Linked DNA regions of Homo sapiens: regions 1, 2, 4 and 5 are each linked to region 3. Evidence: fine-mapped expression QTL. A gene starts in region 3. Each other region holds a variant in brackets. All regions are shown on one strand. Distances are between the middles of the regions. Region 1 overlaps MAD1L1 (mitotic arrest deficient 1 like 1). Region 2 overlaps MAD1L1 (mitotic arrest deficient 1 like 1). Region 3 holds the start of MAD1L1 (mitotic arrest deficient 1 like 1). Region 4 overlaps MAD1L1 (mitotic arrest deficient 1 like 1). Region 5 overlaps MAD1L1 (mitotic arrest deficient 1 like 1).

Region 1 (5,000 bases), 300 kb after region 3:
GTGCCGCCCGTCAGAGGGGTCTCCTGAGTGCGTGTGGGTGGCTGGATTCTGCATACTGGGTTATCTTAACCCCGGCTGTGAAAACTGGATGAAGTAGCAATCCTTTCAACCCCAAGAGTCTGTGATTCAGCCAGAGTTACAAGATGTCTCTTCATCCTCTGAGGTTTACAAGGTTCTCAGAAAACCTGTGAAGAGCTGCGCGGATCCTCTCCTGCCCCGGCCCAGCGGCAGGGCTGCCGCCTCCCTCTCCCCTGGGCCTGAGTGGGTGGATTTCCCCTCCCCTCCTCCTTCCCAGGAGAAGCACAGAGGGAGCGGCCAAGCGAGCCGTGTCTGCAAACCCCGCTTCCCTCTGCGGCGGCCTCTGCCATCGTGCCATGGGGCCGGAGGTCCCTGGTCCAGGTCAGCATGTCCATCTCCACTGGCCTCTTCCATGAGGGGGGTGGCAGGGCCAGCAGTTAGCTTGTGTGACGTGACGTCAGGGGGATGTCTTAGAGTCCGGGGTGGCACCAGGAGGGGTGAGGTCTCTTCCCTTCTTCCCCATCCTCTCCTCTCTCCCTGTTGGAGGCACATTCTGGGCTCTGGGACCACGATTGCCCATGGCTGATGAGCTCCAGCCCAAGTGAGGTCCCCAGGGTACAGCCCAAGCCAGGCCTCGCCGTCCTTCGGGGACTTGGAGAGCAGTGGCCCACAGCAGCCTGAGCTCTTGGGAGGCTGGAGGCTTACTGCGCCCGGTCTCTTCACCCCGTGGGGTGTGTCCACACCGGCCTCTCCTGAGAGCGTGGGGTGATCTGAACACAGGATGTGTTTCCCTGTTCCCCTCTGGGAGATAGGAGAGTGCGTGGGCAGAAGCCCCAAGGGTGGCAGGAACTCATTGCCAAAGGGGAGGAGGCCATTGCTATGCGTGGTGCTGGCCTGGCTTGCTGGGTCATGTCTGTGCCTGACATGACCCATGTCATGACCATGGTCATGTCTGTGCCTGACATGACCCATGTCATGACCATGGTCATGTCTGTGCCTGAGGGACCGGGTGCCCATCCAGTCTCACTGCCCCACAGCTCACAGCCACAAGCTGCAGAATCTCAGCACTTGGCGGGAGCCCTGGCCCGTGTGTGTGCGTGTGTGTGCGCCGCTGGCTCCAGCCCTGGCCTGTGTGTGTGTGTATGTGTGTGTGTATGTGTGTGCGTGCACCGCTGGCCCCGGCCCTGGCCCATGTGTGCGCGCGCCTCTGGTCCCGGCCCTGGCCCGTGTGTGTGTGCCTCTGGCCCTGGCCCGTGTGTGTGTGTGTGTGTGTGAGCGCCTCTGGTCCTGGCCCTGGCCCGTATGTGTGTGTGCGCCTCTGGTCCCGGCCCTGGCCCGTGTGTGTGTGCGCGCCTCTGGCCCTGGCCCGTGTGTGTGTGCGCGCCTCTGGTCCCGGCTCTGGCCCGTGTGTGTGTGTGTGTGCCTCTGGCCCCAGCCCTGGCCCATGTGTGTGTGTGTGTGTGTGTGTGCGTGTGTGTGCGCCTCTGGTCCCGGCCCTGGCCCGTGTGTGTGCGCCTCTGGTCCCGGTCCTGGCCTGTATGTGTGTGTGTGTGTGTGTGTGTGTGCGCGCCTCTGGCCCCGGCCCTGGACTGTGTCCGTGTGTGTGTGTGTGTGTGTGTGTGTGTGTGCCTCTGGCCCCGGCCCTGGCCCGTGTGTGTGTGTGCGCCTCTGGTCCCAGTCCTGGTCTCTGTGTGCGTGCGTGTGTGTGTGTGTGTGTGTGTGCGTGCGCGCCTCTGGCCCCAGCCCTGGCCCATGTGTGTGCACCTTTTCATATGTTTATCAGCTTTTTGGGTGTCTTTTTGGGAAGTGTCTGCTCACATGTTTTGCAGATTTTTAGAGTGGGTTGTCTGACATGCCCTTGGTTATTTCTGACATGCCCTTGGTTATTTCTGACATGCCCTTGGTTATTTCTGACTTCTTCGTATGTTCTGGATCTGAACCCTTTCTCAGAAATGTGATTTTCAAACAGCACCTCCTGCTCTGTGGGTGCCTTTCCACTGTTTCAGTGGATGAAGTTCTTAATTTCTATAAGGTCAGTTGTACTCTTTTTTTTTTCTTTTACGGCCAGCACTTCCTGAACCCTGTTTGAGTAACCTGTGTCTACTCCCAGGAGACAGAATGTGGTGGAATTGATGTTTGTGTGTGATGTGAGGTCGGGGTCTCAGGTGTGCAGTGACCCTGCACCTCCCTGCCGTGGGCGGCTGTTGTTTGTGTGTGGCGTGAGGTCGGGGTCTCGGGTGCGCAGTAAC[C/G]CTGCAGCTCCCTGCCGTGGGCGGCTGATGTTTGTGTGTGGCGTGAGGTCGGGGTCTCGGGTGCGCAGTGACCCTGCACCTCCCTGCCGTGGGCGGCTGATGTTTGTGTGTGGCGTGAGGTCGGGGTCTCGGGTGCGCAGTGACCCTGCACCTCCCTGCCGTGGGCGGCTGATGTTTGTGTGTGGCGTGAGGTCGGGGTCTCGGGTGCGCAGTGACCCTGCACCTCCCTGCTGTGGGCGGCTGATGTTTGTGTGTGGCGTGAGGTCGGGGTCTCGGGTGCGCAGTGACCCTGCACCTCCCTGCTGTGGGCGGCTGATGTTTGTGTGTGGCGTGAGGTCGGGGTCTCGGGTGCGCAGTGACCCTGCACCTCCCTGCTGTGGGCGGCTGATGTTTGTGTGTGGCGTGAGGTCGGGGTCTCGGGTGCGCAGTGACCCTGCACCTCCCTGCTGTGGGCGGCTGATGTTTGTGTGTGGCGTGAGGTCGGGGTCTCGGGTGCGCAGTGACCCTGCACCTCCCTGCTGTGGGCGGCTGATGTTTGTGTGTGGCGTGAGGTCGGGGTCTCGGGTGCGCAGTGACCCTGCACCTCCCTGCTGGGGGCGGCTGTCCCCTGCTGTGGGCGGCTGTTCCCTGCTGTGGGCGGCTGTCCCCTGCTGTGGGGGGCTGTCCCTGCTGCAGGGCTGCATGGTGCTTGTTGCTGGGGGTCGGTCACCCACCACAGGTCAGCAGGCTGGGCCTCCAGGCGCACTCCTCCCTCAAGGATGCCACACACATCCCGGCCCTGGGTTTCGTGGGAACATCAGGTTGCGAGGCGCATTCCTGAGCCACCCACGCTGATGCCAGGCTCCCTTGCCTTCCATCTCTGTGTGGTTGACCTTGTTTCTCTTGTGGCACGGGGCACCTTCCAGGCTGGTAGGGAAGAGATGGGAACATGGCCACACGGGCTCCCAGTCTCATCCCAGCCAGGAACCTCAGAGGAGAGGAAGCCTCCCTCCCGGGCACTGAGTGTGGAATTCTGGGAAGCACCGCACTTGGCTGAGCAAAGGCCGCATGTCCCCTCTCACCCTGTTCCTGTGGTTAGGCAGAAGGGACCCAGCAGGTGGCCAGGCCTTGTTCCTGCACCTGTCCACAGGGCACAGGGAAGGAGCCACTCCTTCCAGGAGAGATGGCTGCCAGGCAGGCTCAAGAAGACAAAAGAACTGAGCACTGTGCTGTGTGTGACCCGTGCTGTGTGTCTTCCTGGGCCATGGTGACCCATGCTGTGTGTGACCCGTGCTGCGTGTGTGCCTGGGCCATGGTGACCTGTGCTGTGTGTGTTCCTGCAGGGTGACTATGACCAGAGCAGGACCAAAGTGCTGCACATGAGCCTGAACCCCACCAGTGTGGCCAGGCAGCGCCTGCGCGAGGACCACAGCCAGCTGCAGGCGGAGTGCGAGCGACTGCGCGGGCTCCTGCGCGCCATGGAGAGAGGAGGCACCGTCCCAGCCGACCTTGAGGCTGCCGCCGCGAGTCTGCCATCGTCCAAGGAGGTGGCAGGTAGGCACCCCCCACCCCCGGTCCCTGCCATCCTCGACCTTCCGTGGGTAGGTCCATCCGTGCGCCTTTGGGGCAGCCTCAGGCGCCCCTGCCTGTCATCCCCAGAGGGTTTGTCCTCCCCTGTGGGCAGCCGGGTCTGGTGGTTGCTGGGGCAGAGCACCCTGGCCCCGTGTCCCCATGGCCCCGTGGGGTTGTGCAAACAGGTGGAGCCATCCGAGTCTGCAGGCAGCTGTGGAGAAGCAAGGGGCTGAAATTTCAGGCCCTTAAACTAATTCGTATCATTTGTCAGTTTATATGTACCCCATTAATCACAAGTAAATCCAGTCCTCCACGAAAACAAGTCCATCTCTCACCAGCTTAAGTGTGCTTCATGGCGTCCAGAGAGCCCTTTGAGGCCAAGGCCTGTGGCGTCCCAGGGAAGAATGAGGCCTCCATGAGGGCCAGCAGGGCCTGCCCACACCCTCCAGGTCTACATGAGGCCCACGGCCTTTGGAACGCCAGCCTATCCCCTGATGTGGGGAGGTGGTGCTGGGGTCTGCCCACGCCAAGCCTCGGAGGGTGCTGCCGGGGCTGTGTCGACTCTGCAGGGTGCCCCTGAAGGAGCAGGGCTGGGAGTCCAGAGTCACTGTGCAGTCTGCACCCCCAGCGAGGCTGTGGGGCTCAGGAGACCCCTGCCCCCTGTGTTGCTCTCTGCTGTTGGAGGGAGCTGGGCACTGCCCCACGCTCCTGGTTCTGGGGGGACCTGGGGGAGGGTTCCCTGTCCAGCCCTTAGCAGCAGCCTGGAGCGTGGCCCGGCGTCCCCTTGCTCCTGTGTTAGAGCCACCCGGCTGCCAGCCCCCTCCCTTGGGGGTGTCTGCAGGCTCATCTGTGGTGGGGCCTGGAGGCTGCTGCTTTCTGGCCTTTGGCATCTCGAGGTGATTTCAGACTCAGCTTTCATCCGATGATACCTTCTTCTGTTTCTTCCCACCTACTTGCCATCGCGCCCTGTACTGTGGGAGAGCATTCCCTGTGAGCATGCAGGTGCAGAGGTTGTGTGGCGGTGACTTGTCCGCTTCCCACAGCCCAGCACCCAGGCTGATGTATCAGGAGTGATTGTCCTCTGCCCCGCTCCTTTGTGGGGAGGGTCTTAGGTGGGGTCTTCCCTCCCTCTTGTGCCCCACCCCCATAAGCCAAGACTGCCCTGAGTCTGGGCGCACCCTG
Region 2 (5,000 bases), 320 kb after region 3:
CTGACCCCACGCCAACCCCCAGGACGCCAGGGCCATCTCCAGGACCTGGGGGAGCAAGGGGCCTGGCTGCCGCTACAGCTCCCAGAAGGTAAAGCCTTTGGCCTCAGAGAGCCTCCCCCGACGGTTCCCTTCTCCAGGCCGGGCGTGCACGCGCGGATTCCTCCTCATGCAGAGCCCGTCTGCCCTGATGGATCCCCCACCCCACGCCACCCCAGGCCGCTTCCTCCGGGTGGAGTGCTCCTCAGCACTCAGGGGTCCTCCCTGCACCCACCCCGCCCAGAACCCTGCTCCTTGCCCCTCTCCTTCCAGAGCCCTGTGTCTGGCTGCTCCAATTACTGGAGCAGTTCCGTGTCCTCTTCCCGAGTCTCCTGCTATCTGAAGAGTTCATTACATAGGAATCCGAGGCCTCGCTGCCTACATTAGCAGGTTTTCATAGACTGCCACATCTCCAAAAGGGGAAAAGAGACAGGAGATTTAAAACTCTCGTCTTGCCGAAAGCAGACAGATTGACTCGAAAATGACCCAGTCAATAAAAGATGAGCTCTGGAAAGGCTTCCCTCTTCTCAGAGGGGGCTCGCCTGCCGGGGAGCTGAGGTTCTGCAAGCCTCGGTGGGAAATTAATCATGAACGCGGCATGCAAAGCGGCCGGAGCCCACACAGCCCCGCCCCCACGTCTCCCAGGACCTCGCCGCCGCCACCCCAGGCCTCTCTCCACGGACCAGCTGCTGGGCATGTTCCTGGAGGGAAGCTTCCGGAAACAGATGAGGTGGCCGTGTTCTGTGGTCACGTCTTGACTCGGCTGTGATATCGCTGTGGGGCACTGCTCCCTCTGGAGTGTTTCTGGCTCTGGGAGGTGCGTGCGCGGTGGGCTCCCTGCCTGCACAGGGGCCCTGGCTGTGGGCCTGTGAGGCTGGGTCTGCCTGGAGCTGGTGGGATGAGAGGGGAGTGCTCTGAGGACCGTTCCCCCACTGGTGCAGGGATGGGGAGCACAGGGTCCCGGTGGCTCTGATGCATCGGCGGCAGGGACCGCAGCCCTGCCTGTGCCAGGAGGAGCCGTGAGAGGATGGGCACCCCTTGCCCTCTGTGGGCTGGCATCTCCGTGCAGGGCCTGCAGTCTCTGCAGTGGCCACCCATTCTTATCTCTCCTGGTGCCCACACCTGCCGCCTGCCTCACCTCACCCAAACAGGAGGAGTCACCTCTGACCCCAACTGCTTCCTTTTACCAGAGTTTCTCAGCTCATGTTCCCCAAAAGGATAGGTTAAGTTTTCCTTTTGAGCCACACATGCCCCCATTTGCTGTCTGTCTCTCAGATGGCCATCCTTCATCCAGTCGACAGGGCTGGCCTTGCGGTTTCCACTGCTGACACACACGGAGCTGGCTGGTTCTGGGGTCTGTACCCGCACGCAGGGCCCCTGCCGCCATCTGGACCCCTGCCACCCCAGTTTCCCCCACTTCAGGATTTTGGGTCAGAAGGAAACTATCCCGACAGCTATGTGTACTCCTGCAGACTTCTGGGTTTGGCCATGGTTCCCGTCAGCCCCCAGACCCCCGACAAGTGTCTGAGGGGATGTGGAACCCAGCCCACTCCCACCACTTCTGCCCTGCAGCTGCATGGAGGGCGGGTTGGACAGGTGAGGCCCAGCCCCTGCCTTCAGGCAGCTCACACAGTGAGGGAAGCAGCCCTGCAAAGGTGGCCGCAGCTGGAAAGGCGTGTGTGTGCCGCAGAGGTTCAGACCCAGTCCAGGGGAGAGGGATAGGATGCCCAAGAGGGGCTTCATCTGGAGGTGACGCCGGACTGGAGAGGGTTGGGATGCCCAAGAGGGGCCTCATCTGGAGGTGACGCCAGACTGGAGACGGTTGGGATGCCCAAGAGGGGCCTGTTCTGGAGGTGACGCCGGACTGGAGAGGGTTGGGATGCCCAAGAGGGGCCTCATCTGGAGGTGACGCCGGAGTCTGGCCTTGCAGAAGTTCGCTGGTGAACATCGTCCCCTGGCAGAAGGCAAATGTGCCCGCCACATTGTGGCAGCAGAAATGAGCACCATGCGTTCTGAGTGTGCCTGGGGTGTCTGGGAGGACTGTGGACTTGTAGCGGCAGAGGACAGAACACCTGGGCTGCACACGAGTGACTGTGCTGGGCAATGGCGCTTCCCTTCCGAAGCTGGGCTCTGACTCTGCAAGTGACTGCGCCGGGGGCAGTGCTCCCCTTCCGAAGCTGGGCTCTGCGTCAAAAGAAAGACCCCTGGGGCCTGAGGAGGAGGGAGAGGAGGGTGACAGGAAGTAGAATTTGGACTCTAGTAAAGAAAGACCCCGAGCAGAGGTGGTGCCAGGGAGGGTTGGTGAGGACAGAGCGTTGAAACCTGGTGTCCAGCGGGTGTTGAGTGCTGAATCCAGGAAGGCCGAAGGCAACTCAAGTTGTCTGGCTCAAGGGGTGCGGGGGATGGAGGGAGAGGCGGCCGCCCAGGAGCGGGAACTGTGGGAGTAGCACTTAGACATGAGGCACGCCTGCAGTTATGAATCCTCACGGCTAATCAGGGCTGTGGGCACAGGCAGCTGAGGCCACTTGAAAGGACTGATGCGCCCAGACCAGGCCCCGCCAGGGCCTCCGGTCACGGGATGGGTGCAGGGTTGGGGGTCAGGAGAGAGACACTGTGGCCCCACATCGCCATGCTGGAGCCCATGTCCCGCCTGACTGGCGTCACAGGGAGCCCTCTCCCTGCTTTCTCATCGTCGGTTTCCCCATCCAGAAGGTGGGGACAAACGTAGCCATGCTCCCCAGGGCGGGGCCCGGCTGGGATGGGTGCAGCGAGGCTGCGTGTTCCTGCCCCGGACAGGCACCTACTCAAAGCCCGAGCAGGCTCTCACCTGACGAACGTGTTCCAGGTGGAAGAGAGGCCAGGACACGGGCAAACACGCGATCTCAGATGCTCGTGAGCTCTAGGGAGAAAGCAAATGTGGGGTGCCC[A/G]GAAGACCACTGGTGGGGGTGGCCCAGGGAGGCTTTTCTGAACTGAAGCCTGAATGACCAATGGAGACAGCTGCTCAGCCCCCAGGGCAGTGCCCAGCGTGGGCTCCAGCTTTGGCTCCGCGGCGGGTGTTCAAGGGGTCCCCTCAACAGTGCTGGCATCGCAGAGGTGGCCCTGTGCTGACGCGTCGGACGGCTGCTGCGACCAGCCCTCCCTGTAGTCCTGTTGCTGGCCAGAGACCGTGGAGCTGGATTCTGGCCTCCTGCAGGCATCTTTCTGTCCATTCAGCAGGTGCCACGTCCCCCCACATATGCAGGGTGTCCGGAGGATCACTGACACGGGGGCCAATGTCCCTCCTTCCGCCAAGGTTCCGCTGGGCCTCTGCTGCCGAAGGACCCCATGGGGGCTGTGGAGCCTGGTGCCGGGGGAGGGGGCTGTCCCTTGGGGTTCAGCTGCTGTGTTCTCGGTGCTGGGGGAGGATTCTTCTCCAAATATGATATCCGCGCCCGCCTGTCACCCCAGGACTCTCCCACCCCGTAATCTGGTGGCTGTAATTGCTGGTGTCTTTTCATATCAGTTTTGTGCAAGGTGACAAGCTGCTTGCTGGAGTAAGTCGTTAATCACACAAGAGGTGCCCTGTTTGAAAGCTGCACAGAGCTCACCCAGCCAGCGCCTGCCAGGTGGTGGGCCAGGGAGCGGCTCCTCCGTGTGTAATTCCAGGGCGAGTGTCTTCTCACTGGAGCAGAGTGTGCAGTTTCTGCCCAGCAGGGGAACTCATGGCTCATCATGGAGGCCGTGTCTCAAGGGCCGTCTGGTACCAGCAGAGTTGAAGCGACCATCTTCTTGGGGCAGCAGCAGGCCCTGGCTGGCAGGTGGTGGCGTCCCATCCTCCTGTTGCCAAAGCCAGTTCCTGGGGACCATGATGCCTGCCAGCCCCTCGGGCTGGTCTCCGGGAATTTGGATTTGGGGCCGGCAGCCCCTGGGATGAGCCAGGTGGGGCGCTGTGGGGCATGCTGGGGTACGGTTCTCACGGGTGACATCCCGGGGGGTCCCGGCCAGCCTACAGGTGCGTCCCCACCTCCTACAGTCTCTTGCAGAGCCAGCCAGGACCCGGATACAAATCGCACAGCCATAACCACTGCAATGCCCCATGCCCATGGCTGCTAATAAAATTGCATCAATATTTGATGCCTAATTATTAAATATTTAAAAATGTAAAACTGAAATAGTTTAGAAGCTTGCAAAACATGAATAATTCAGTCCCGGGAAGCCTGGCTCGGCATTGGGCCTGGGCAGGACCGGGGCTGCCAGTGCCTGCCAGGGCCCAGAGTACTCTCTGCAGGGACACTCGGGCGGCTCCCCCAGCCCTGGGCCTCCACTGGCTTCCTGTGTCCGCAGCGTGCAGGGGATCCTTGGTCGTCTCTCGTCGAGGTCAGACCTCGGCCTGATGTGGAGGCCTCTGCGTCACCTACTAGTACACCACGCCGGTGTCGGGCTCCTTCAGAGGCTGGTCCCGCTGCTCCGAGTCTGGGCACGTTCCCTCCTGCCCTGTGTTCCCACTGGCACTGAGCATCTGAGAGTCATCTCTGACCCATCAGACCCATCCTAGAGGGAAGATCTGGAGATGCCAATGCTGGCAGCCTCCCAGAAACAGTCCAGCAGGACCCCCTGGGGCCGCTGCTCATGCCAGGCGCCCAGCCGCCGCCAGGGAGACATCTAACGAGAGGTGGGAAATAGACACTTGGGGGAGCCAGGCCGTGTGGTGGGGGTCATGAGAGAAATGCATGCTGGGGGAGTTTCATAATGTTGAGAACAGAGACACGGCTCTGCTACTTCCGGGGAGTGAGAACCAGTCACTTGTAGAAGACCAGAAGTCAGAACGGATTCAGGCTTCTCCACAGCAGTGCTGAGCACTTGAGACCTGAGGGCGATGCCTTCAGCACTGAAAGAGAGGCCGGGTGCGGGGCTCACACCCGTCATCCCAACACTGTGGGAGGCACACATGAGGCCCGCAGGTCAACAACAGCCTGGGCAACATA
Region 3 (5,000 bases):
GGCCTCAGCTTCTCAGATGTTAAGGCCCGCCATCTCCACCATGTGTCTTTATAGGATGTATAGATAGAGAAGGCCTGTGTTTACCTATTTGCACATTAGCTCTTTGCCTTGGTCTTGACATTTTATTTTTATTTCATCACTTTGTTGCATGTACTGTATTTTTGTAAAAAGATTCAGGGTGTAAATAAATAACACATTCACCATTTCTTCCATAGATCCCAGCTCTCCTGTTGGCTTCGTGCTTGGGGTAGATCTTCTTCACATATTCCCCCTGGAAGGAGCAACTTTTCTGTGCCCTGCTGACGTGACTGACCCGAGAACCTCACAGAGAATCCTCGAGGTGCTTCCTGGCAGGAGAGCAGATGTGATTCTGAGCGACATGGCGCCCAATGCCACAGGGTTCCGGGACCTCGATCATGACAGGCTCATCAGCCTGTGCCTGACCCTTCTCAGCGTGACCCCAGACATCCTGCAACCTGGGGGGACATTCCTTTGTAAAACCTGGGCTGGAAGTCAAAGCCGTCGGTTACAGAGGAGACTGACAGAGGAATTCCAGAATGTAAGGATCATCAAACCTGAAGCCAGCAGGAAAGAGTCATCAGAAGTGTACTTCTTGGCCACACAGTACCACGGAAGGAAGGGCACTGTGAAGCAGTGAGGATTTCTTGTGCCATTTTCATAATGGTCATTAGCTCCTTTTAAGCTAGAAACGTAGCCTGAGCTCCTGAAGAGTTCCTGGGAGATTTGAGCTGATTTTGGAGATGGAGCAGGACAAGTGGGGAGTCTCTCTCTCTCTTTCTCTCTCTCTCTTTTTAACCAAAAAGAGATGACAAAACTAAGTTCAGGGGCCATGGAAAATGAAAAAGTCCGCTATATTGTGATTTGGGAAGAGAAAGTTATCAAGAGAAAGAGGTGAGGATGGAAGGATGGAGAAAAACAGACTGTGGGAAGGATCAGAAGGAATCCGCCGAGGCAGGGATGGGTGTGCCCATGTGTGCCTTGACGGGACTTCATCTTATAGACTGTTAAACTGTCACACACAAACAGGCTTTCCACCCCTGCTCTGAGAGCACCACGCACAGATTTCCAGTTCTTAGTGTGGCTGTTTAAAGTAGAAAATCTGGGGGCTGGGTGAGGCCACTCATGCCTGTAAACCCAGGGCTTTAGAAGGCTGAGGCTGGGGGATTGCTTGAAGTCAGGAGTTCAAGACCAACCTGGGCAACATAGCAACACCCCCCATGTCTACAAAAATGAAAAACCAAAAAGCAAACCAAAAGAAAAATCTGAAATTTCCATCTGGGGATTAACTTCTGTCTTTCTGGTGAACAATATAGCAATTCACGCATTCTTCAAGCAGCAAAAGTTCCCGGAACAATTAGGGAAGACGTATGGTCTGAATTTATCCAGGCAGTGGGTCTGCTTTGGTTTTTGCTGGAAATTTATATCAGTGTCTGGGCTCCCAAGAACATAAATGTAATTGCCAAAGCAAGCAGTGATGTGGTGTGTTTATTTTCTTTTACTCATCTAGGAACTTGACGCAGCTTTATATTTAATAAAATAATAGAGATTGCATTATTTTAAGGTACTTTCATGCTTTGAAGTTTTGTTTTTTTTAAACTGGCTTCCTCAAAGCCATTTCCTGGAGGTGTACTCATCCCTCAAGAAGAGTTTGTTGACTATGATTAAATTCCAAGGACCAGTGGGGGAAGTCTGGAAACCCAGGAATCTCCATCAGGAATCTGGGGCTCTGTCCAGCTCCCCGAAGGAAACTGCGGGTCAGATGTTTTGATTTTTTTTTTTCTTTGAGAAACAGAATCTCACTCTGTCACCCAGGCTGGAGTGCAGTGAAGTGATCTTGGCTCACTGTAAGCTCCACTTCCCGGGTTCACGCCATTCGGCCTCAGCCTCCCGAGTAGCTGGGACTACAGGCGCCCATCACCACGCCCGGCTATTTTTTTTTTTTTTTTTTGTATTTTCAGTAGAGACGGGGTTTCACCGTGTTAGCCAGGATGGTCTCGATCTCCTGACCTCGTGATCCGCCTGCCTCGGCCTCCCAAAGTGCTGGGATTACAGGCGTGAGCCACCGCGCCCGGCCGCCAGATGTTTTGACTTTTCATTTTATTTCTGGTTGCAGTCAGGTTGTTAAGTCCAGGGACTCTTGCCCTACTCCACCTCGTTCTCTTATTCCATTTCATTCCCGGGGCACACAACTTGGAAGTCTTTCTCTGAAAGAAGGAAAATTCATTGCAGACCCTTAGGAACAGCATCTTCTTAGAGGGAAGCCAGGGGCTGGGCAGAGACGGGAGGAGGAGAGGAAGAGAATATGGAAACGAGTAAGGCACACTCTTCTCAGGAAGGCTCCAATTTGAAGGATAGACAAAGGTTACCATAATAATGGTGGGGCCTGACCTCACCCCATTGGATGCTGTGCCCTGGCTTGCAGAGCACTGGGAAGGTAGCCTAGTAGCATAAATTGCATTTCTAGTGGGCCCAGAAAAAAGCAAAATAACGGATTGATTCAAGCTGATACTGAGTAGCAAAATTTTGGGAAGAGTCAACGGTGCAAGTTTGTCCGAGGAGGCTGCCGTGGGCGCGGCTATTCCACACATTACGGCGCGAGGCGAAAGCCTTAGTGGAAGCGCGTCCTGCGCAAAGCCGGGGGGCCCCCGACTGCGCCTTGGCTCAGCCTTCGGTTCCGAGTCCTTTCCGTGCGGAGTCTCCCAGGGGTGGCGGCTCCGGGTGCGGACGCGGAGTCCCCAGGATCAGCCGGTGCGCAGACTCGGTTCTTTACGGCCCGATTGCCACGCAGGTCTCGCGAGAGCGCAGGCGCAAGTGTCGCGATAAATGGGCGCCGGCGGAGCGGAGGGAGATCCGAGCGGCGGCGGCAAGCTGGCTGCGAGCGGCTGAGGTAAGCGGCCCGGCTCGCGCGGGCGGCGGGGTCCCGGGGTCCCGGGGGTCCCGGGAATGGCAAGGGAGGGGCCGAGGGCCCGGACCGGGTGTGCTCGCCAGGGTGGGGCACAACGACCCAGACCCCGTGCCTCAGGACCCCGCGCCCGCCCCGTCTCCCATGGGCGCGCTCTCCTCTCTGTGCTCTCCCCTCCTCTCCCCACTCCCCTGTCCCCACTCCCCCTTTGGGCTGTGCTGGGGACAGCGGGCCCCTCGCCTGGGTCTCCGCAGCCGTCCCTTGTGCCAGGGCGGGCGGCCGAGGGGCGCGTGCTCGTGGTCCCAGCCCCGGGGTCCCGCTGCCTACCGTGTGGGTCCCCGGGCTAGGGTGCCGGCGCGCCGAGGAAGGGGCCTGAGCTGGCGCCTGGTGGAGAAGTCGGGGCTGCAGGGGCTCTTGGCATCCTGGTGGCTCGCGCCGGTCCGCTCTCAGGAAGGGGGCGTGTGGGCCCGGTTTCCCCTCGGGGATGGCAAGGGCCACCCTGATCTCGTTTGGGCAATGGAGGAATTGGGCTGTGGAGCCTCCTTCCAGGCGGGCCTGCCTCTGCGGGGCTGGCAGCCTGGGGAGCTCAGGCCTCTGCTTGCACCAGGCCAAGGTTCTTGTTAAATGGAAACTCAGAAACTGTGCAGCTGCAGAAGTTCTACCTTTGGCTTTTAAACGCGCTTGGCTGTTCCCTAGTTGTGGCTGGTGGGCCGGCCTGCCATGAGCCCATAGTAAGCGCCGGTGTTGGGGGTGCAAAGTTCTTTACTGCGGTTTGTCTTCAGCCTTCCAAAGCCAGACAGACCCAAGTTCCAATCTCCGTTCTGTAACTTTTTGAAGCTTCGGTTTCATCATCTCTAGAATCTGTGTAAAAAGACCTAATTCACCACCCTGTTGAGACTGAGCTTACAAATATAGTGCTGGTCAACCTGCAGCCGTATTCCCATCATCTAGCGGTGGAAGACTTGAGGGATATTGGCCCCGTTCCCCACAACTTTGCAAGTAGATTTCACTGTCATGAGTTTACAGATGAGGAAACTGAAGTTCAAGAAGTCTCGGTGCTCGGAAATGTCAGATACCTTTCTTTCTGATACCTAGTTGAAAATAGTAGTAGTACTTATTAATGTCACTAGAAATAAACAATGAAAATGAGCACAGCTGTGATGATCATCATCTTTACTGTCACTGTTGCATGCCTCGTTTCTGATTCCCAGAGGCCAGATTTTTTTTTTAATTAATTATTATTATTTTTTGAAACGGAGTCTTGCTCTGGCACCCAGGCTGGAATGCAGTGGCGCGATCTCAGTTCACTGCAACCTCCATCTCCTGGGTTCAAGAAAATCTCCTGTCCCAGCCTCCGGAGTAGCTGGGATTACAGGTGCACGCCACCACATCTGGCTTTAGTAGAGATGGGGTTTCACCATGTTGGCCAGGCTGGTCTCGAACTCCTGACCTGTGGTGATCTGCCCATCTTGGCCTCACAAAGTGCTGGGATTACAGGCATGAGCAACAGTGCCTGGCTTATGTTTATTTATTTATTTATTCATTCATTTATTTATTTTGAGACACTGTCTCACCCCGTTACCCAGGCTGGAGTGCAGTGGTGCGGTCTCAGGTCACTGCAACCTCTGCCTCCCAGTTTCAAGCGATTCTTGTGCCACAGCCTCCTGAGTAGCTGGGATTACAGGCGCACACCACCACACCCGGCTAGTTTTTGTATTTTATTAGAGGTGGGGTTTTGCCATGTTGGCCATTCTGGTCTTGAACTCCGGACCTGCCTCCGCCTCCCGAAGTGCTGGGATTAGAGGCGTGAACCACCCTGCCTGGGCAAGAGGCCAGACTTTGCTGTGAGTGCTCCTGGTAGGTAGTTTCAGGCATCAACTGACTGGATTCAGGAATTCCTAGAAACCTGGGAAAGCATCATTTTTGGTTTTGGGTGTGCCTGTTGAGGGTGTTTCCAGAGGAGATGAGCTTGGGAGTCTGAGTGGACCAGGTGCTGAAGATCCATCCTCAGAGTCAGGGGCAGTATCTAAGAGCCTGGGGGCCTGGAGAGGACAAAAACAGAGAAAAGGCGAATGTG
Region 4 (5,000 bases), 340 kb after region 3:
GCCTCCCAGACCTTCCTGCGCCCCATCTGGTTGATGTGGAGGGATCGCCTGCTGGATATGGGCCTTTAGAGCATGTTCATGAGGGCTGACACTGGGCATGCAGCCTCACCTCCCCAAGTTTCAGTCTCCTCACCTGTGGAGTAGAAGTAACTGTGGCTCACTTCGGAGGCTGCAAGAGGCAAGTCTCATAAGTGCCACCTGTGGAGCTGGGGAGGGGTCATGTTGCACCGGGATCCCTGTTGGCTGGTTCAGCTCCAGCCCACGGTGCACCCGTGCTTCTCCCAGAGCTGTGACTAGCTCTGCCGGCCCTGTGTGTCCTGGTCCCTGCAGACCTTCTGGAGGGCCTGCAACATTTAGGGAGCTTTCAAAGGCTCCCTGTAAGCCGACTCTTCCCAAGTCCTCCTCCGAGCTGCCCTTCACTGGGTGAGGCCGTTGGCCTCCTGAGAAATCCTCCCCCTTGGGTTCCAAGAAGACAGCGCTAGAGCTGCCAAGTCTTCTGGCAGGAGCTCTGACCAGGAGATCAGCATCAGTCCTGCCCCATCCACCTGTCATTCCTGCCTCCTTTGTATCCAGGACACCAAGCTTGGTGACAGGAGAGGCACTTGTACTGTTCGCAGCAGCTCCACGCCCCCAGCTCAGGGCCTGGCTTATGGAGAGGGCAGTCTAGGGCTCTGCCAGACAGACAGAAAAACAGGTTTCAGTGGAGCAAAAGGGAAGAGACAAACAGTGAACAGACAACAGCCAACCTGTAGGGCCAGGGCTCATGTTGGCACCTCTGCCTGCAGATGGTCACTGACTCCTTGGGGCCATGCAGCGGTGGCCCTGGTCTCCACTGTCCAGAGGAGAGATAAGAGACACTGTGGAGTCACCTTGTCCCGGGCAGCTCCTGACCCTGGTGTGCAGCCTTGGCCAGGCCACTGCACTCCTGTGAGACTCAGTTTCCCCATCTGTCATGAGGAATGTGGTCTGGGTGCTCCCTGGGGGCCCTGACCCTGGCCTCCTGGCTTCAGAAAGGCATCCTCAGGGGGCTGAGCATCACTAGGTGTGCCCAGGAGGGTCTTCCCTGAGCTACCCTCCTGAGATAGGGCCACGGAGGGCAGAGGCCAGTGTGGGAGGGCAGGGAGAGCAGGGAGACAGGCCCCCTGCCCCACCCACTCCACCTGGGGGCTGGCATACGTGGCTCCCGTGCTCCTGAAAGATCTCGCCAAACCCCAGCCTCCTGGCCATGTCATTTATTTTATCAGATTTTCCCCCAAATGATTCTTCAGGCAGAAAGGGGGCTGCAGACAGAGTTAGAAATAGCCGAAGCCGTTTCCAGTCAAGCGGGTTCCACAGATGTGTGCTGGGATAATTGAGGGTTTGCCGCACAGTCCCCCGCCACTCTGCTTCCCATCCCAGCCAGGACTTCCCATCCCAGCCAGGACTTCCCATCCCAGCCGGGACCAAACCTCTTGTTGCCGCGTGGGTGGAGGGAGCTGGCTGCCTGGGCTGCCGTTTGGGGGAAAGGCAGGCAAATCTCAGCTCCAGCTCTTCCCAGCGGGAACCTGCTGCCTCTGCTCCTCTCCCTCCTGAGAGGGGATAGAGATTCCAGAGTCCCTAGAGCTTCCTGGGAAGGCCATACTCTGCCTGGGCCTGGAGCGGGGAGGCTCAGCTCCTGGTCTCTCCATCCCGGCTGCACTCCTCCCAGTGGTTCTCACGGAATTTTCCCCACCTCCCTTTTCCCCTCTTCTCAAAACCCAGGGAAGGAAGCCTTCTGTTACGAGAGGGAGAAAATCAGTGGTAAGAAGAAGTGGAGTGACCAGGCCGGGGACACAGAGCAAATGCAGTTTGGGGCAAAACCGTGAGCTTCTGGGATCTGGGAGACACACTGGTTCCAGCAGGCTCCTCATTCCTTGCTGTCCAGGGCCTTCCCCGGCTCAGAGGCCTGCAGGGTGGGCGTCAGGGCCAGAGGC[G/T]TGGACGGCACAGATTCCGGAACTGCACAAACATGTGGCGATGTCGACCTACCGGGTTTGTCATATGGATGAGGGGGAAAGGTATACAGGTCCAGCCTCCCCGATTCGAAAACCTGAAGTCGGGAATGTTCCAAAATCCACAGCTTTTTTTATTGTGGGTCTGTCACTCAAAGGAAATGCTTAATGGAGCGTTTCCGATACCAGATTTTCAGATTAGGGATGAATATTTGCATGAGATGCTTACTCAACCAGTAAGCACGTAATACAGATATTCTGACAACCTGAAAATCTGGAAATCCCAGACACTTGGTCCCAAGCGTTTCCAATAAGGGATACTCAGCACTCACCTGTGTGTATATGTGTAAGTCTAGTACGGTCTCGCTTTGCCAGATGACAGGGATGCATGCTGAGGAACGTGCTGGTGGGCAGTGTTGTCTTTGCGGGAACTTCCTAGAATGACTTGTACGAGCCTGGGCCGTGCAGCCTCCCGCACCCTTGGGCCGCATGGTTTAGCCGGCTGCTGCCAAGCTGCAAAAGTGTGCAGTGCGTGACTGTGCTGAATGCAGTAGACCACCGTGGCGCAGTGCTAAGCATCTGCGTGTCTGTACGTGTTTAAATATGGAAAAGGTGCCATAAACATGATGTATGAAGGGTGGAAGACGGTGCACCTGCGTAGGGTGCTCACCGTGAACGGAGCTCGCAGGGCTGGCGGGTGCTCTGGGCGAGCTGGTGAATGAGGGTGAGTGAGTGTGAAGGCCTAGGACATGAGTGTGCACAACTGGAGACTATAAATGCCGTACCACTTAGGCTACACTCAACTATTAAAAATACTGTTCTTTTCTTCAATAATAAATGAATGGCTGGGCACAGTGGCCTGTGCCTATAATCCTAACATTTGGGGAGGCTGAAGTGGGGGGATCGCTTGAGCCCAGGAGTTCAAAACCAGCCTTGGCAACATAGCAAGACCCTGTGTCTACAAAATATTTAAAACTTAGCCAGGCGTGGTGGCGCCTGCTTATCGTCCCAGCTACTCCAGAGGCTGAGGCGGGAGAATTACTTGAGCCCCAGGAGTTAGAGGCTGCGGTGAAAACTATGATCGCGCCACCGCACTCTAGCCTGGGTGACAGAGTGAGATCCCATCTCTAATAATAATAAGAATAAAGTTTGTTGTAACTTTTTGAGTTTATAAACTTTTTAATTTTATTTATTTATTTGAGACAGAGTCTTGTTCTGTCACCAGGCTGGAGTGCAGTGGCGCGATTTCGGCTCACTGCAACCTCTGCCTCCCTGGTTCAAGCGATTCTCCTCCCTCAGCCTCCTGAGTACCTGGCATTACAGGGGTGCGCCACCACACCCAGCTAATTTTTTTGTACTTTTAGTAGAGACGGGGTTTCACCATGTTGGCCAGGATGGTCTCAATCTCCTGACCTGGTGATCCTCCCTCCTCGGCCTCCTAAAGTGCTGGGATTACAGGCGTGAGCCACCGCACCCAGCCTATTAAAATTTGTTTTGTATAACACTTAGCTTAAAGCACAAGCACATCCTACAGCTATAGAAAAATGTTTTTGTATAGCAGCCTTCCTGGGAAGAAGAAATAGCCCCGCACCCCTCGTCCTTGTGCTGGCCCGGGGTGTCGCTTCTGTGCACCCTTTTTTCCCCTCTGCCCATCCTTGCTGCCCCTGCCGGACCTCAGCAGGGGAAGGGGAGGTGGCGCAGAGCCCGCTTTCTGGCGTCTGTCTGATCCCGCCGAGGTCCCGCACAGAGCCCGCTGCTGGCGTCTGTCTGATCTTGCTGGGGTCCCGCATTCTCACTGTTGCATGGACTGTGGAAATCCCAGACAGGAAGGCTGTGCACCTCCCCAGGAAAAATGAGAACATGGGCGTCAGACAGGGTCCAGACTCCTCTACCACAGCAGGTTGGCCCTGGGAAATGACTTCTGGCCTCAGCTCCCCAAGGACAAAGTGGGGCCCGTGAGCACCCCTTCTCAGGTGCTGAGCGATGGAGAGCTGATAAAACAGCACAGGTGGCCTTGGTTTCGGGGCTCCCTCCTCCTCTCCCCGACATACCTGTAGTGGCCGGCACAGCCTGGGCCTCCGTGGAAACTGGCAGGATGGGCTTGCCTGGTGTCTTTGCCTGTTATGTTGCTATAAAGGAATATCTGAGACTGGGTGGTTTCTAGAGAAAAAGGAGTGTATTTGGCTCACAATTCTGGTGGCTGCTAAGTTCAAAAGTGGGCACGTGTGCACCTGGTGAGGGTCTCAGGCTGCGTCCACTCATGGCGGGAGATGAAGAGGAACCGCCCACTTGGGCAGAGATCACATGGCAGGAGGCCAAAGGGGTGGGGTGCCAGGCTCCTTCTAACAACCAGCTCTCATGGAAACAGAGAGAGACCTCACTAATTCCCTCAAAGGCAGTACCAGGCTGTGGGTGAGGCCTGTGACCCCATGACGCAGACACCTCCTCCCCATAGGCCACACTTCCAACATTGGGGATCCCATTTCAATATGAGACTTGTCAGGGACGTACCAACAGTACCCACACCAGAACACGTGGTCCTGGGGTGAGACCCTCCCGGGGATCCGAGCCCACCATACCCACACCAGACAGAGCGTGTGGTCCAGGAGTGAGACCCTCCCACGGATACATGCCCCTCCCAGGAGATGATTCCCCATTCTTGCCATAGAGAGGGGCCAGGAAGGCCCAGGTCCTGTGTGTCTTGAGAGTGGAGGCAGCTCCACCTCCCAGCTGCCTTCACAGCCCTGTGGGTGGGCAGCCTTCAGGGCACCACCAGCCTGGGGCCCAGAGCCCAGCTGTTGCTGTGGCCCCTGACGAGCTGTGGCAGCAGGCCCCCCAGCTCTGAGCTTTGGAGTCTCATGGGTGGCTGGGCCTCTGCCTGGGTGGGGTGAGGGGAAGGAATTAGCTGGGTCTGGAGCCACCATGCTTGCTTAGAAGGTGAGGAAGGGCCAAGCCACAAACATGGCAGGCTCAGCTGACAGCAGCATCCGGCCTGCAGAGGGGACGTGGCCCAGGTCCTGCATGAGTCAGCCC
Region 5 (5,000 bases), 360 kb after region 3:
CGTGGCAGGCGTATGTTGGGTTCAGTGTGGCAGGTGTTACGGTGGGTTCAGCGTGGCAGGTGTATGTTGGGTTCAGCATGGCAGGTGTTACGGTAGGTTCAACGTGGCAGGCGTATGTTAGGTTCAGCGTGGCAGGTGTTACGGTTGGTTCGGCATGGCAGGCGTATGTTGGGTTCAGCGTGGCAGGTGTTACGGTGGGTTCAGCATGGCAGGCGTATGTTGGGTTCAGCGTGGCAGGTGTTACGGTAGGTTCATCGTGGCAGGCGTATGTTAGGTTCAGCGTGGCAGGTGTTATGGTCGGTTCAGCGTGGCAGGTGTTATGGTCGGTTCAGCGTGGCAGGCATATGTTGGGTTCAGCGTGGCAGGTGTTATGGTCGGTTCAGCGTGGCAGGCATATGTTGGGTTCAGCGTGGCAGGTGTTACGGTGGGTTCAGTGTGGCAGGTGTATGTTGGGTTCAGTGTGGCAGGTGTTACGGTGGGTTCAGCGTGGCAGGCATATGTTGGGTTCAGCGTGGCAGGCATATGTTGGGTTCAGCGTGGCAGGTGTTACGGTGGGTTCAGCGTGGCAGGCGTATGTTGGGTTCAGCGTGGCAGGTGTTATGGTCGGTTCAGCGTGGCAGGCTTATGTTGGGTTCAGTGTGGCAGGTGTATGTTGGGTTCAGCGTGGCAGGCATATGTTGGGTTCAGCGTGGCAGGTGTTACGGTGGGTTCAGCGTGGCAGGAGTATGTTGGGTTCAGCGTGGCAGGTGTTATGGTGGGTTCAGCATGGCAAGCGTATGTTGGGTTCAGCATGGCAGGTGTTACGGTAGGTTCACCGTGGCAGGCGTATGTTAGGTTCAGCGTGGCAGGTGTTACGGTCGGTTCAGCGTGGCAGGCATATGTTGGGTTCAGCGTGGCAGGTGTTATGGTCGGTTCAGCGTGGCAGGCATATGTTGGGTTCAGCATGGCAGGCATATGTTGGGCACCAACTAGGCCGGATGTGACACATCGTGAGCTGCCACCTGCACAGCCTTCCTGCCGACAGTTCTGGGCAGCGGCTCGCATCTGGGGTCAGTCACTCTCCCTGTCTCGGTTCAAGGTCAGGCTTGTTCTGCCGTGTCTGGGCCTCCCACACCTCACCTACCAATGTGGACTCCGGGTTGGCACGGCAGGGGCAGGGGAGGCACGGGCGAGGCACCCCTTGGCTTATGAAGTGCTCCAGCCAGCCGCCTGTTGGACCCCGTTGCTTCCTGGGCTCACAGCCTGCCTTGTGGGACGAGCCTGGGTCCTCCGTCAGCAGCTGGACCTGAACCTGCCTGCCCCATGGAGGCACTTGCGGGAGCCCAGTCTAGGTGTGGTGTGGCATCACCTCCTGCAGGGACAGTCGTGATGTGTTCCATGGAGCCCACGCACGTGATCTCCATGAGGCTGTGGTCCTCGGCCCCCTCAACCCGTGCTAGTGTGACAGTGCTGATTGACAATCGTAGCTCATTACCGACGCAGGCTAATTAAATTACCCTTCGGCAGCTGGAGATGGATGGCACAGCCAGGCTGGAACATGGTTATGTTCCGTTTTGTCACGTTTTTCAGTGTTTTTTCCCGGGTCCCTGTGATACTGAGGTTGGAGAGAAGGGGAGGCAGCAAAGGCGCTGGGAAGAGGGCCCTGGGGAGGTCACCTGCTCCCAGCTGCACGTGGGCTGAGCTCTTGCAGGCCATCGCTGTGCCCAACCCTGGGCTGGGGATTTAAGGAAACCTGGGGAGTTTAGGAACCTGGACTTGGTTCTTGCCCTTGAGAGCCTATAAGGTGGAGTTCAGGGAGAGCTAAGAGCCTGCGCCGAGGTAGATGCTGGGAACTCAGAGAGGCCTCTGGGAGAGGCTGTGGGAGGGGGTCCCAGGCAAGGGGTGCTCTCCACGTGGGCTGACTGCTCCTTCCCTGGCGTTCCCCCGGGCCTCTGTGGCCCCCACAGCAGCGTGTGTGCCTTCTCCTTGAGACCCAACCCCGCCCCATGCCGGCAGCCATGGGGGCGGGCGATGGTGCCTGGGCATGGATCGTTGCTCGGATGTTCCCGTCCCGGGCCTCACCGTCCACGTGTGGCCTGGACCAGTTGCGTCGGTGCCATTCGGGCCCCACCCCAGCCTGCCGAGCCAGAGCCTGCCTTTCACAGAGCCTTGGGGGAGTCCTACACACGCGAGGGTTTGGGCTGTGCCGGGCTAGCTTTCTGCCTGGCGCGGTGAGGCGGCGCTTCCGTGCTCAGCTTCGTCCGTGTGGGGAAGAGGCCAGGTTCTCCATGCAGAGGGTTGGTGTGCCAGGGCTTGCACCGCTGGGCCCCTGTGTGGGGAGGTCACACCTTCAGCTCCTTAGCTGACATGCTGGTCTTCTGGGCGTTCCCCTGGTGGTCGTCACTGCGTCCTGTTGGCCCCTTGGTGCTGAGCCGCATCCCCAACTGTGAGAACTCTCGCCTCTGGTTAAGGCTGTGAACACGCAGTGCGTGTCACTCCTACCCGGCATGGGCTGTGCTGACTTCCAGGCAGGCCGCAAGGGTATCGCATGACGCGCTGGAGAAATCCAAGCCTAATCCCAGGACCCCAGGATGATGCTCCATCCCTGGAGGGACCTCCAGGAGCTCCCTTCCCCACCCCCTGCTGAGCCTGTACTTTCTTTGTGTAAATTATCCGTGGGGTGGGGTGGGTGGGAGGCCTCGCTGGGGAGGACAGACATGGAGGGCCCCACTCCAGCAGCACGCAGCCCGGGAGGCGCGGCCTGCGTGGGAGCAGCCCGGGAAGCGTGGTGTGTGCTGGGCGGCAGCAGCCATGGAAGTCCACGCTGCCTCCACAGTACCCAGGAGCTGGGGAGGCAGTGACTTGAAATCTCAGAGCCAATTCCTTAAAAATCCAGAAAGTTCTAACTGATTTCGGTTATCAGCAGGTGGGGCT[T/C]GGCTCCCTGTTCTGCCTCAAGGTTATCTTGGCCAAATTGTCCACCCCAGGGGCCACTGTGGGGTCAGGAGTGCTGGTGTCTGGGGGGCCACAGTGCACCTCGCTGGGCTGAATGGCAGGGTGCAGGAGGGCCCACTCTGAGCGGGCACGGCAGGGACAGTGCTTACAGAGGTCAGTAGGGGAATTACTGCTGGCGTCTGCTCAGCGCCATGTGGGGCAGGGCAGGGCACTGGCCACACAGAGGACAGATGTGGAGGGCCCCTCAGAGACGGTTGTCGCCCCGTATTAGGGAAGACGGGAGAAGCGAGCACAGACACTGCTCTAATTATGTGGCTCTCATCTGGGCAGGGACTGCCTCCGATGCATCGCCATTTATTTTTAATAAGTCGTTGGAACAACTTCAGCTCCAATTATTGTCCCAGAGCTGATGGCAGGGGCCAGTGCTCAGCCCGTCCAGTCCCTCCAATGAGGGACTGTGTCACCTCCCTGTGCCACCCCTCCCATCCCCTACAGCCACCCTGCAGGAGCTCTGCCCCGGAGGCCAGGAAGCGTGGCCCTTCTCCCTGCCTGCAGGAGGCCTCAGGCGCAGGTTCCTGGAATGGAAATTGGGCCCGAGCCACCGGTAGAATCTGGCAGAGTGCTGCTGAGATGTGCAGAAGCCTCCGCGCCCCATGGCCCACCTCGCTCCTACTCACTGCACACCTGCAGTGGGATGCATGGCCCGCTTTGCACTCTGCAGAAGATTGGGCGAGCAGAAGGGCCAGATCTGTCCCAATTCCTGCGGCCCCCAGAGGAAGCTGCTGCCACCGCCTCATCCAGACCTGGAGCTCAGGCTGCAGTGCCGCCTTCCATGCTGGACCCGCTTCTCTCCTCTACATCTTCCGGGGGGGTCCTGCGGAGGCAGCCAGCACCTCTTCCTTGTCCCACACTTCCTTGTCCCGGCATTCCCCTCCTCCATTAGCCCCGAAGGCCTCTGGAGCTTGGGCTGGGCATGAGCTTCATGTGTGTCCCTGGCATGTGGTCAGTGATGCCAGGGGAGGCCTACGGTGCCCATGTCTGTGGCACTGACCGTGCCATCCATCTCACCAGCTTCTGCCTGCCTCTGTCTCCCACTTCGCCCCAGCTTGGCCCTAGATCTCCAAGTACTGCAGCCGACCTCAGCCCCTCACCCACTGGGCCAGCAGGTGCTGCTGTGGTGACCCACTCTGCGGTCAGGAGCCCAGCGGGCCCTGTAGTGAGTGCTGCCCACTACCTCCCCTACCTCCGAGCTGCACCTCCCCATCCCTACTGCAGGAGGACCGCTGTGGGCATGGAGAGCAGGCCAGCACAGTGAGACGCCTGCAGGAGCCTGGCCCAGCCAGCGCTGGCAGCTGAGCTGCCCATCTCTCCTCCTTGGCCCTCACCGGGCCCTATGTCGCTGCCTCCTGCTGCTTCCCCAGTCATGGTACACCCTCACTGAAGGCCCTCAGGGCTCCCGTCAGCCCGTGGAACAGATCTAGTTGGTTTTCACGATGTTCCCTGCCCTTCACCCCTGCCTGCCCCCAACGCTCCCGCCAAGCAGGACTGCTCTGGGGCTGGCCGGCAAGAGGTGCCATGGCCTCTGCGTTGCCTGCCTGTCCGCAGCCTCCCGTGGCGTCTCACACCAGCAGCTTCTCTGTAGCGCTCCCTGAGCCTCCTCTTCCCCACTTAAGACCTCTCCTCAGCACAGTGCACCCTCGTGTCTCTGCCCCAGAGACTGGAACCGTCTGGAGGGTGGAGCTCGCTCTCATCTCTTGCTTCAGCCCTTTGTTCCTGGGAGCATGTTACGGCCTCAGCCTGCAGTGGGGGCACAGGGAGCTTTACAGAACCAGTTAGGGTTCCAGGAGCAGGCTCTGCAAGGCTCCACCCTTGTCTTGGAGGGCAGAGGCTGTCGGGACCCACAGCGCAAGGGCCTAGGCGTCTATCTCCTCCCACCTGGGCACCTGGCTCCCAGAGCGCACCCGGGCTCTGCACCACCAACCTGGGCACCTGGCTTCCAGCATGTACTGAGGCCCTATACTCCCAACCCAGGCACCTGGCTCCCAGTGTGCACCCGGGCGTTCTGGCCC

The links.
Region 1: its variant is fine-mapped to the expression of MAD1L1 in whole blood (INTERVAL, PIP 0.92).
Region 2: its variant is fine-mapped to the expression of MAD1L1 in whole blood (TOPMed, PIP 0.96).
Region 4: its variant is fine-mapped to the expression of MAD1L1 in whole blood (TOPMed, PIP 0.90).
Region 5: its variant is fine-mapped to the expression of MAD1L1 in whole blood (TOPMed, PIP 0.93).

The regions. Positions count from the first base shown.
Region 1 is chr7:1,935,487-1,940,486 of GRCh38, reverse strand. It overlaps MAD1L1 (mitotic arrest deficient 1 like 1), which reads left to right. Exons shown (of 19, transcript NM_001013836.2): 17 at 3,590-3,800. Among named protein-coding and RNA genes, the nearest start is that of MIR4655, 94 kb to the right of the region's middle. RefSeq lists enhancers at 9-98, 1-522, 519-568. The variant C/G (reference allele first, on the strand shown) is at 2,268.
Region 2 is chr7:1,908,573-1,913,572 of GRCh38, reverse strand. All of the region lies in intron 17 of MAD1L1 (mitotic arrest deficient 1 like 1), which reads left to right. Among named protein-coding and RNA genes, the nearest start is that of MIR4655, 67 kb to the right of the region's middle. RefSeq lists enhancers at 1-624, 625-1,258, 1,436-1,936. The variant A/G (reference allele first, on the strand shown) is at 2,964.
Region 3 is chr7:2,230,780-2,235,779 of GRCh38, reverse strand. MAD1L1 (mitotic arrest deficient 1 like 1) reads left to right here and starts at 2,835. Exons shown (of 19, transcript NM_001013836.2): 1 at 2,835-2,908. It overlaps MRM2 (mitochondrial rRNA methyltransferase 2), which reads left to right. Exons shown (of 3, transcript NM_013393.3): 3 at 216-1,585. The coding sequence ends at 658. RefSeq lists enhancers at 1,450-1,982, 2,717-2,846, 2,632-2,926 and silencers at 2,561-2,939, 2,917-3,336.
Region 4 is chr7:1,889,691-1,894,690 of GRCh38, reverse strand. The region is part of intron 18 of MAD1L1 (mitotic arrest deficient 1 like 1); the gene reads left to right. Among named protein-coding and RNA genes, the nearest start is that of MIR4655, 48 kb to the right of the region's middle. RefSeq lists enhancers at 3,316-3,816, 3,817-4,317. The variant G/T (reference allele first, on the strand shown) is at 1,953.
Region 5 is chr7:1,866,147-1,871,146 of GRCh38, reverse strand. The region is part of intron 18 of MAD1L1 (mitotic arrest deficient 1 like 1); the gene reads left to right. Among named protein-coding and RNA genes, the nearest start is that of MIR4655, 24 kb to the right of the region's middle. The variant T/C (reference allele first, on the strand shown) is at 2,914.